Homo sapiens: one gene and its partners. The protein of the gene in region 2 purifies or fractionates together with the protein of the main gene of each other region. This does not show direct contact. Each region holds a gene or a part of one and is shown on either strand. Other genes may lie near its edges.

Region 1 (3,089 bases), on a different chromosome or scaffold from region 2:
CCCAAATACCACTTATTTTCCTGCTTTCTCTTGTTCAATTTTAACATTCACATTACAATACACTTATTCTGGGACAGCATCGGATTACAAATAAAAAATATGCATCGATAAGCCCATAAGCACCATTTCAAATACTATGTCAATGTTAATTTGATTTTAATAAAGAACATTCTTAATATTAAATGAGCACTGTTTCATGTCTAAAACCGATTTTAAAGAGGTATCTGAAAATGTAGTATAAAGTTATTGCTTTCAAAGTTAAGTTGGCACAATCTATACAAGATTGAACTGAGACAAAAGGAAACCACACCAGTTAACATAACCAATCTTTGTCTTCTTTTAACATTTTATATATCTGGAAAAGCTATCCTTTTACAGTCTTAATAAAAGGGCTTTTTCCGCCATCTAGATACTTAGCTTCTTACATGTTAAGACACATCTAGGATATTACTATTTTTAACCACAGCAACAATTTTTTTTCCAAGTTAGGCAGTATAATAAATGCTTGAAAAACCTTGTGTGAGTTTTTGTGAAGTTCTGTAGGTATATTACTTTGCCAGATAATACAAAAAAAAAAAAAAATTCACAAAGCAAAACCAAGAGTATTTATTTTCATTATTTTAAAAAACTGCAACATTTATTTCACAATCCCTGGAACTGTAAAATAACTATTCTTTTAATTTACAGAATTGAGGGAAGTATTTTAAATGTCAAAATACACATGCTGAATGTGATTTAGCATATAAGCACCAAAAATCCCAAAAGTATACAAAGATTGTTTAAACATATAAGGTGCATTTATTCATGAATTAATTACATTCAGTTTGAAGGAAGAAACAGTACTCCAAAGTTCATCAATATTTAAGAAATTATCCGAATAGCTTCCAACTTGGTTTACAGCTAAATAACAGATACTGCTTTTAGGTTTTTTTATACAATGCATCTAAACTTTAGGTTCGAAATTTAAGTGCTGCCTTACACTGTGAATGGCAGTTTGATCACTAAATTTATGTTCCAGTTTGAGATACTTCATACACAACATATATTTAATGCCCTGAAAACTTCTGCTTAAAAACTGAGTTATTTAGTGAACATCTGAAGGTAACAAAAAAAGATAGATCTTCTATATTTTTATGTAGAATTGGGTATAAAGTCATTTGGGGTCAAACACAATTATTTTTTAAATGTTATCAGTCCGCCCAGTAATAAGAACTTTTGTAAATATGCCACTATAGCTTCGGGCAATAATTGCTATTATGAAGTTAGATAAACACAGGATTAATTTCTTGGTTTACAAATCAAAATTATTGTGATATTAAAGCATGCCTCCTTCCAAACCACTTGGTCAATGCTGATAACAATTAAGAAAAACGTATGCTAGTATTGCTCTAAATATACTGACTTAGCTGTCCTGAATGACCTAATTAGGTTGGGGAGGGGACTTGGCCTGGTTCTCCAGTTCTGTGAAGCTGCCACCTCCAGCCTCACTCTAAATAGCTTATACAAAATCAAGTTATTCCCATAGCTAACACAAATCCAGCAAGCTGTGGTCCTAAATGCCATCTACATTTATATATTTACTTTTTTACTGTGTACATTAAGAATTTTGTTGTGCTTTTCACATATCCGATGTATGTTTTCATATTAAACATTCCTCAGTTTCTTGGGAAGGAAAGAAAAAGATCATGAAAAGAGGTACATCAGGAGAGTCGGACTGTAAAGTAACATTACACACACAACTAGCCAAATCTCTTTTTAATTTAAAAGATAATGTCATCACAACGCAACATATAGAAACATAAAAGAAAATAAAGTATCCACCCTAAAATCCCTATTATTCCATGATATTTTCATAGCAACTAGTATATATATCAATATATTTTTCACAAACCATTCAGTTACACATTGTGTATGCTTTTAGAATTTAAAATATGTATTACCATAGCAGTCTAAACATTGTACTTTTAGGGAAATGTGCGGAGACATGGTTCAGTGATTTGATCATTGTGATGATTATTTACAATGCTATCTATTTACGTTAGCAATAAATAATCCTGATATCAAAAGAGACAATACTCATGCACACACCAAGATGGCTGCATGCTCTTAAAATATTTACACATAGCTCTGCCATTTATAGCTCTCCCATTAAGAGTGAAAGTGCGCTTTCTTCAATTCTCTCCACATTTCCATTAGTCTTGCTTCTGGGGGATGCATCCTTCCATTTCTACAACTTCAGGCCATCCTTCATATTTGTTTGTATCCTTATTGTTCTTTATGTGCTATTGGAACACAGTAATAATATACAGTTTAAAAAACCGTTGTAAACTGCTGATTTGCCGTAACATTTTACACACTTCTCATTTCAGTAATACTCATGTCAACAATAAGTTCATTTAAATTACTGGTCAAGATATTAAATGAGTGACCCTCAGGCTGTATCACATACATGGCAGACCTTCAAATAACAGCTGAAAGAATACATTGCACGTGCTTTTAAAGGATTATTTGCTACTCAAAAACTAACATTTACATTCTACTAAGTTCTAAAATATTTCCAAACTTCACTGATTCTAAAATCCAAAGCTCAATTAAAATCCTTAATAACTAAAGCTTCCGAAAAGGCTTAAGATAGGTAATCCTATTCCAATGCATTGTCCTGTAGGAAAAAATATTCCCATGCAGAATTTTCAAGTTTTGAAATTTAAAAGTACGATAGTTATTTCAAATAACTGATTACCAAGAATTTATGACAAATATATGATCATATTTACTATCCGCTTTATCTAATTTTCAAATAGCTGGGATGGGAAAATGTACCGTAAGGTTTCACAGAATTTGTTTTTGTTAATTCTGAGAGTCTATGACACTAACCTGTTCAAAAGGGCTTTTTGTCTTAATGCCCTTCCCACCACAGAAGACCCAGTTGTCTCTAAAACCAAGATTAGTAATAGATGTGCTCCCCAAATCAGCAATGAGCCGCCGTGCCTCATCATTGAGTCTTGAAGAGGGAGAGAAAGAATACAACAATAAACAGAGGGAACTGTATGCTAATACTGGTTCACTGGGATATTAACACAAAACATGAG
Region 2 (3,758 bases):
GAGGAGGAGGGCAGATCACCAGTCCTGGTAGGTGACATTTGAACTCTGGCTTTCCTCTGAAGAAGACAGGGATTCTGACTGGAGGATTCTGAGTAGAAAAGTAACCTCAAGTCATTTCAGTTTTTAAAGGATCCCTCCAGCTTCTTTCTGAGAGAAACTGGTAGGGGGCAAATGGGAAGCAGAGAACGCAGGGACTGCAATGACCTGCCCGGGGTCAGGCTCGCCTCATTCACGCTCAGGCCCATCTTCCTCAATGCAAGCCTGGCCATAACTTGTCAGCACCCACACCCTCTCTCTCTCTCCCCTGACCACAAGAACTTTCACTGGTTCCTCACTACCTCCATAACTATTAACTGCCACATCTCTGCATGATCCCCGAGATTGCATCATGGCCTATTACACCTTTCTAAGCACCATGCACTCCAAACCCAATGGATCACCTGCTGTTTCCCCAAAAGACCTCTATGAGCCTTTCTGTTGTGTCCTGTTTTCTCAGCCTACAATCCCTTGAGCACTTCTACCTTCCTTTCTCTGCCTCTGAAATGTTATTCACATCCTTCAAGACCAAGCCCAAAGGCCACTTCCTTAAGAAGCCTTTCTTGGCTGCCTCCAACACATAATTGGCTTACACCTCTACCAAGGCAATCTTACCAGTTCCTGGCTGTCTCCACCACACTGCCCACTGAAGGCAGCAATCACGCACAGCCAAGCACAGTGCTAGGCACACACCAAGTGCTCAATCAATGCGTGTTTGGTCGGAGAACAAACTGCTCACTTCACCAAACATCTTGAGGTCTTAATGGAGAAGTATTCCAGGGCAGGTTTTCCGTGTTGGCTACTGTAATCTGGAGACCAGGGGACCCTCTGATGGAGTCTCTGGGGACTGTCTGCTCAGCACTAACAAAGGTACAAGTAGGGACCACAGTGTGGACAGATTTGAACTTAGGCCTACGAAGACTCTTGCCTTCTCTGCTAGACATCTCTAAGCAGGCCCATATTTTGTTTTAAATTTCCATAAAGTATTGGAAGTATGTTTTTCCTAAGGTCATTCTAGAAGTGTACAAAAGAAGAAATGAGCACTTAGAAGGACCCACATCAAGTTAATGTAGTTATAGTGGTGAGAGAGGGTGGAATTAGTTTTATTTTCCTTTACTTTATCTTGAATACTTTTTCTAAATAAACATTTAATGAAAGTCATTTAGAAAGAATGCCAAGTACTACCCAAGTTACATTTGCAGAATGAGTCCAAAAATGAAAAGTACCAAACAAATAAGGAGACATGAGGCCATGGAATTATGTAATACCGCTTACACGGTAAGATTACAAGAGCTGAAAATGTTTTAAGTGGCTTGTCTGAAGCAAGCAATTAAAATAATTGGTCCTGTGCTTTCACCTCTGAAATAATTATTTCACTAAACATAAAGCAGATGTTGTGAGCATCTTGGGCACTTATTGATGACTCTTACCCAAACTAAACTCTTCCACAAGCTCCATAATTGACCATAAACCAGTTCTCATCACTGCATCCTAGCTCATGTTACACAGGTGGCCAAACAACTCTGAATGGGACATTTCAATGACTGTCTTTAGAGAGGAAATGTCAAAAACAGGCAACTAACAAATAATACATCTTAAAGCTAAAGCTATATCAACAAAGTATTAAATAAAGATTTGTCTTCTAATTTTCAATAAAAGACCTACAGAACTTTTAATGAAATAGCTCATTTAAACACAAAAGATCTAGTTGCTTTAGTTATCACCCTGTTAAAGAAATAAAAAGGGGAAGAGGAAACTGCAGTCAGGCACAGTGCTAGGTATTCTAGGTGTAGCTTTATATTACTTTCCCCAGTAAATCTAACATAGGGCTTTATCTTCCCCATTTTACAAGTGAGAAAATTTATCCTGAAATAGTTCGTGTAATTTTAACTTTAGGCATTCCCATACGTAACTGAGACTCAGATTAAATAACTTGTCCGTAGTCACACAATAAGTGGTAAAAATAGAATTCAAGCCTATTTCACAAAAGACTACATGCCACACTGTATGACTGATTCCACTTACATGAAGTTCAACAGGTAAAACCCATCTATGATGACAGAAGTCACATCTATGATGATGTAAGAAAGAATAACAGTTCCTTCAGGGTGAGGGGGTGGGAACACGGACAAGACATGGGCGCAGGAACCTTCTGCAGTACTGAAAATGTTTATTTCTTAATCTGAGAGCTTACATACATGAGCTCATGCTTAATATTAACACTTCTCACACTTTACTGCATGTTATACATGAAGTTAAAAAAATCCTCATCTTATGGACTCCAAGTTTATGCTCTTAACCACTAAACCACCACATGGCACTCGGACAGAATCTAGCCACATGCCAGAATTGATTACCTTGGATTATCATTTTTTTCAAACATTCTGGTAAGCTACGTACATCCTACTCATATCAGAATGAAGACACCTGAACCCTCTGTTTTAAAATGCCACAGAATGAAAAGTAGAAAGTATCAATTTCCTGGCTACTGGGAATTTCCCCCTCTGTAGCCACATCAGAAAATGGTTTTTGTTTTTTTTAAGTTATAGATGCACAGAAAATAATGTGTAACATTCTTAAAGTTATATATGAAAATACCTAAAGCTAAAATTGCACAAGATACATGTTATGACTCTCAAAAGACATCTGAATTTTTGTTACAAAAATTAAGACAAGGCAAAAAGACAAAGCTGGTGGGCAGAGGTTGTTAATACTCACAGGGCAACACACAGAGGGCAAAAATCTCAACTCTTAAAATTTGTAACAAATAGAAAACTCAGTACAAATAACTTTTTCCAGCAGCAAAGTAATTGTGCCACATAAGCCCTAATAATAAATTCTCCATCAAGTAACAGGTTCCAGCCTGGCAAAGTCTCCTTACCAGTGAGTGATGATGAAATCATTACATCAATTCTCCCAAAACCTTACCCCACACATACATACACCTCTTATTCAAACAGTAATTGCCTCTCCAGAGAGAGGAATGTATTCATTCTGTAATTTGCAGACATATTTGGCAAGTACGTAGGAACAGCAATCCCACCTTAGAGAGTGGAGAAAAAGACAGCTGGGTCCACACCTTTTGGGTGTTTGTGCTGTTTTCTTTACTGGATGCAGCCAGGAAACATTTACCACTTCAGAGTCTAGTTTAATTCATGTTTTAACCTTCTGTACACACCAAAAATACCAAGCAACCAAATGACTTTAGTTTCCCCTGGGCACTTACATAAGAGACCAAAAGGCCTTTATGAGAATCTTTCAGTATTGGTGATGTATGTACCACCATCAGGGATGTTGCAATAGATTACACATCACCAAGTATTATCCTAGTTGCAAGATCTCAAGGTCTCAATGTTTATAAAAGTAACCATAGGCAGTTATTAATTTTTAAAGTCTCTAACAGACTTTCCAATAAAACCATCAAAAAAATACAGAAAAATACAGTCAAATACTACATCCATTAACCAAGTCAGAAAGAATGAAAAGCACTGACCCAGTATGTCAAGAGTATTAACAGCTGTGGATCAGCATCCCTAAATTAGGATTTTCATGAAACCCTAGCATTGCTAGAAAACATTTAAAGCTAAGGCCAGGCGCGGTGGCTTACGTCTGTAATCCCAGCACTTTGGGAGGCCTAGGCGGGTGGATCACCAGGTCAGGAGTTCGAGACCAGCCTGGCCAACACAGTGAAACCCTGTCTCTACTAAAGACACAAAAATTAG
Region 3 (3,758 bases), on a different chromosome or scaffold from region 2:
AACTAAATGGGGAAAAATCTCACTAGTTAACAAATGCCTGCTTTATGCAAGGGACTCTACCTTTATACAAACCCTAATAGCATATGACCTCGGCTCTCCCAGAATTCACTGAATTTGAAAGGAATGTCTATGAAAATAAGGATTTGTTGATGTAATTAGTAATGTAAATAACAGGTATACATATAACCTACAAAAAGTTTTCTTTAAACACTATAGAAGCCTCCAGTTACATGCAACAATTATCATGCTATTCAAAATTAACTAATATCTTCATAAAAGTTCCCTTCAAAAGAGTTCTAAAAGATAACATAAGTGCTTAAAAATAATAAATTCTATCTTTAAAATATTCTAAACTTCAGACTTTTAAAAGCTTGAATTAATCTTTATATAAGTAAAATGTTACTGCACTACAAATGAGTACTATTTTAAAACAAACTTACTTTGGCATAAATAAGTGAAATTCTCAAGATATGAAATTTATAAGGCATTTTTAGCCACGGAAAAAGCAGGTAGTAGTATGATTCTTCCATAAGGGCCTCAGACTTTACTTTTATTTATTTCTACCACTGTTTTTGTTTTGCTTATGTTGTACATGCAGCAGTGAACTGTACACTCAATGCAGGTAAAAACCGTCCTTTGTTACTGCAACTGTTGGCTGGACCTATTATTCTTTGTGCATTTGCTTCCCAGTACTTGTGGCCCACACTCTCTACAAAATGAGCTTCTCCTATCTGATAGGGAAGCAGATCTGCTGCTTTGATTGTTTCCTTAATTCTGCGGTGTCATTTAAAGTTGTACTTTAAAGTATTATGTTTTATATTTTTTGAGTCCAGTTCCCTCCTTTCTTGAAGCTACCCTCTTAAACTCCCTGAACAAGAGCCATCTGGAAATCTTGTTCCTGTCCTCCATCCTTTCTGTGAGACCACACCAGCACAGCTGGGTTGCAGCAGGCACTGCCGAGGTGCTGCTGGACTGGCTATGCTCCAGACCCTCACTGTTAACATGCAATTCTTGTCCTTTTGTGTTAAGCATGGTTAGTAGACAAAGCTCAAGACAGTGTTCAGCAGTTCAATCTCCTTTGGGCACAGATCCTAATCTCACAATCACACATGATTTGAGTAACGCTGTTTATATGTAGAACTTCTGTTGCTACATGGTCCCAGTCTGCCCAGTCTCCAAATTGACAGTGTAGATACTTTTCCACTTTTCTTTTCCCCAAGAGGCCTGAACTAAGTACTGTATAGGTTATCCAAACAGAAATATTTTCTTTGTATTAAAGGGACTCCTGTGAATCTAACATGAAGTCAAACATCATTTTTATGCTGTCGAAATCAACAACTTCTACTGTCTCTACTCACTCACCAACACAAACAAAATTTGAAGCTTTAAACCAGCAATGTCCAATAAAACTATCTGCAATGATGGAAATTTTCTATATCTTCTCTGCCCAGTACAGTATCCACTAGCCTTGTATGGCTATTAAGCATTTGAAATGTGGCTACTGCAACTGAGGAATGGATTTTTAAAATCGTATTCCATTTTTAATTAATTTATACTTAAATTTAAACAGACAATGTGGCTAGTGGCTATCAATAATTAAGGGTCTGAGATTTTTATCCTACTTGCAGGCTAACGAAATCAGGGTGCCACAGTTTCATGGGGATGCTGGAAGAAGACAGAAAATTCTAGGGTGAGAAACAAAGGACTATACTACTCACAAAAATATCAGTAGCAGTAGTATCAGCATAGTTGTGCCAATGTCCTGAAACTCAGTTCCCCCCATGTGATGTGAAGCAGATACTTGATGATCTGCATTGTCAGAGGGGAACCCTGAGCTTAGGGTACTTGAATCTTTTAAACTGGACAGTAAAACCTACCTGCCCTTTGCTTCAGAGGGAAAGAATACCTCTATCTTCCAAAACTATCTACCATACAAATGTCTTTAAGAGAGTCTGGGATGAAAGCAGTAAATGCCTTTGCTCACAAGACATGCAAAAGTCTGAGTGACTAATGGAGAATTGAATCCCAACATAGGGGTATCATACATATCTCTGAAATCCACTCATCTCCCACCTGCTTGAATACCTTGCTTTTAGCCACACTTAATTTCTTCCTATGACCACGGTAAGCTTCCAAATGGTTATCTTTCTTCCACCACTGCCTCCTCCCACTCATTCTCTATACAGTAGCTAGACTGCATCTTGTAACACAAATCTCATCTTGTTTCAGTCTTCAATGTCACCCACTGTCCTTAGAATTAGGCCACCCCTCCTTAGCAAGTTCCACAAAGCCAGTGCTTCCCTTGCTTGTCCGTTTAAGGTTTATGCCTTTAGCCACATTAAACTCCTCTCAGTTTCTTACATGTAGAGGTCATAAAGTGGTGGCCCTAGGTTGAATTCCAACTACAGATTTGTCTGGTTTGGCCCACAGAATAGTTTTTAAAACATTTGGGTTAGTTCATATTTGGGAGATTTCATATTTATAAAATATGAATTTTAAGCTCCTCTTTAGAAATCAAGGCATCTGGCAACACTTGGCCTGCATCCCAACCTGACAATACTTGGCTGAAATGAGTATCTACTTTTCCCTTTAGACAGCTTGGATTCTCCAGATTGCCACGCCTCTCCCTCCTGCTCTTACCTATGTATTGTTTAACATTTTCTGCCTGACTTCCATTCTAAGGCATCATGCTCCCTTTGGTCTCTTTCAATCTTCCCACCTCTTCAGCTGCTAACTACCACTCATGCTTCAGGTCTTCATGTATTCATGCTGCTAGGAAGTTTTCCTTCACCACCACCAACCCAATTAGGATGAGATGATGCACTGTGTGACATTCACCTACCCAGGACCCTGCTATCCTATCTTCTGAGGTTCTCTTCACTACCCTTATCATGGCATGAATCATATGGCATTATAATTTTTTAAAAATTTTCTTTATAAATTTATAATTCTCTGTTTACAGATCTGCATCCCTCTCTAGACCTTTCAGTCATAAGAAAGTGACTATAACTGTCTTGTATACCATTGTATGTCAGTGCCTAGGAAAAAGCCAAACGTTTAGTGTGGGCTGAATAAACACTTGTTGCATAAATGAATGAAAAAAGTTAGCTGAGGAATGGCTATTTCAAAATATTGGGGAAGAGTGTATTTATATTTTTATATATGTATTCATTTTTAAAATGTGGACCACTGAAATTCCATTCCTTCCCCCCTCCCCCTACCCTGGAGAAACTAAAATAACTACTTGAGTCATAGAGCAATAGCTGTATACTGGCAATGTGCTAAGAACCACACATGGATTAGCTCATTTAATGCTGACAACAGTCCTTTCAGGTTAGTATTTCATTATTCCCATTTTGGAGAGGTAAACATTCAACCCCAGATAAAATGAAGGCCTTATTCTCCACAACACAGTAAATTGTAGGGATACATGATGACTGAAATTTCTGCCAGGATACCTGAGAGCACATGACACCAACAGCAGCTTTATTCACAGCCCATCTTTTGAGCTATTTGTATGTGGTTTTAATAATTAGCTTTCGCATTCAAATGGTAAAGAAAGTTCTTATACACACAAGAAGCATTTATGGCTATTATACCAGATGACACGGCTTCCAGGGCAGTAAGAAGGATCTTTAATCTCATTTCACAAATAGAAAAACAAAGGTATGGAACAATAAAGCCAAGTGTAAAGTTAACATTATGTCCCTCAGGCTGCCCCTCAGCCTGCCATGCCTTAATGTGAGAGTCCAATCAAA

The links.
Region 1: the proteins of B3GNT2 (region 2) and FAM3C purify together in Homo sapiens (affinity purification with mass spectrometry; 4 studies listed by BioGRID and IntAct, with this or other methods). This does not show direct contact.
Region 3: the proteins of B3GNT2 (region 2) and PAM purify together in Homo sapiens (affinity purification with mass spectrometry; 3 studies listed by BioGRID and IntAct, with this or other methods). This does not show direct contact.

The regions. Positions count from the first base shown.
Region 1 is NC_000007.14:121,348,269-121,351,357, forward strand, and holds the end of FAM3C (protein FAM3C precursor), read right to left. Parts: intron 3,002-3,089; coding exon 2,875-3,001; intron 2,283-2,874; coding exon 2,193-2,282; 3' UTR 610-2,192; downstream 1-609. UniProt on the Homo sapiens protein: May be involved in retinal laminar formation. Promotes epithelial to mesenchymal transition.
Region 2 is NC_000002.12:62,199,104-62,202,861, reverse strand, and holds part of B3GNT2 (N-acetyllactosaminide beta-1,3-N-acetylglucosaminyltransferase 2), read right to left. Parts: intron 1-3,758. UniProt on the Homo sapiens protein: Beta-1,3-N-acetylglucosaminyltransferase involved in the synthesis of poly-N-acetyllactosamine. Catalyzes the initiation and elongation of poly-N-acetyllactosamine chains. Shows a marked preference for Gal(beta1-4)Glc(NAc)-based acceptors.
Region 3 is NC_000005.10:102,758,291-102,762,048, reverse strand, and holds part of PAM (peptidyl-glycine alpha-amidating monooxygenase isoform e preproprotein), read right to left. Parts: intron 1-3,758. UniProt on the Homo sapiens protein: Bifunctional enzyme that catalyzes amidation of the C-terminus of proteins. Alpha-amidation is present at the C-terminus of many endocrine hormones and neuropeptides and is required for their activity.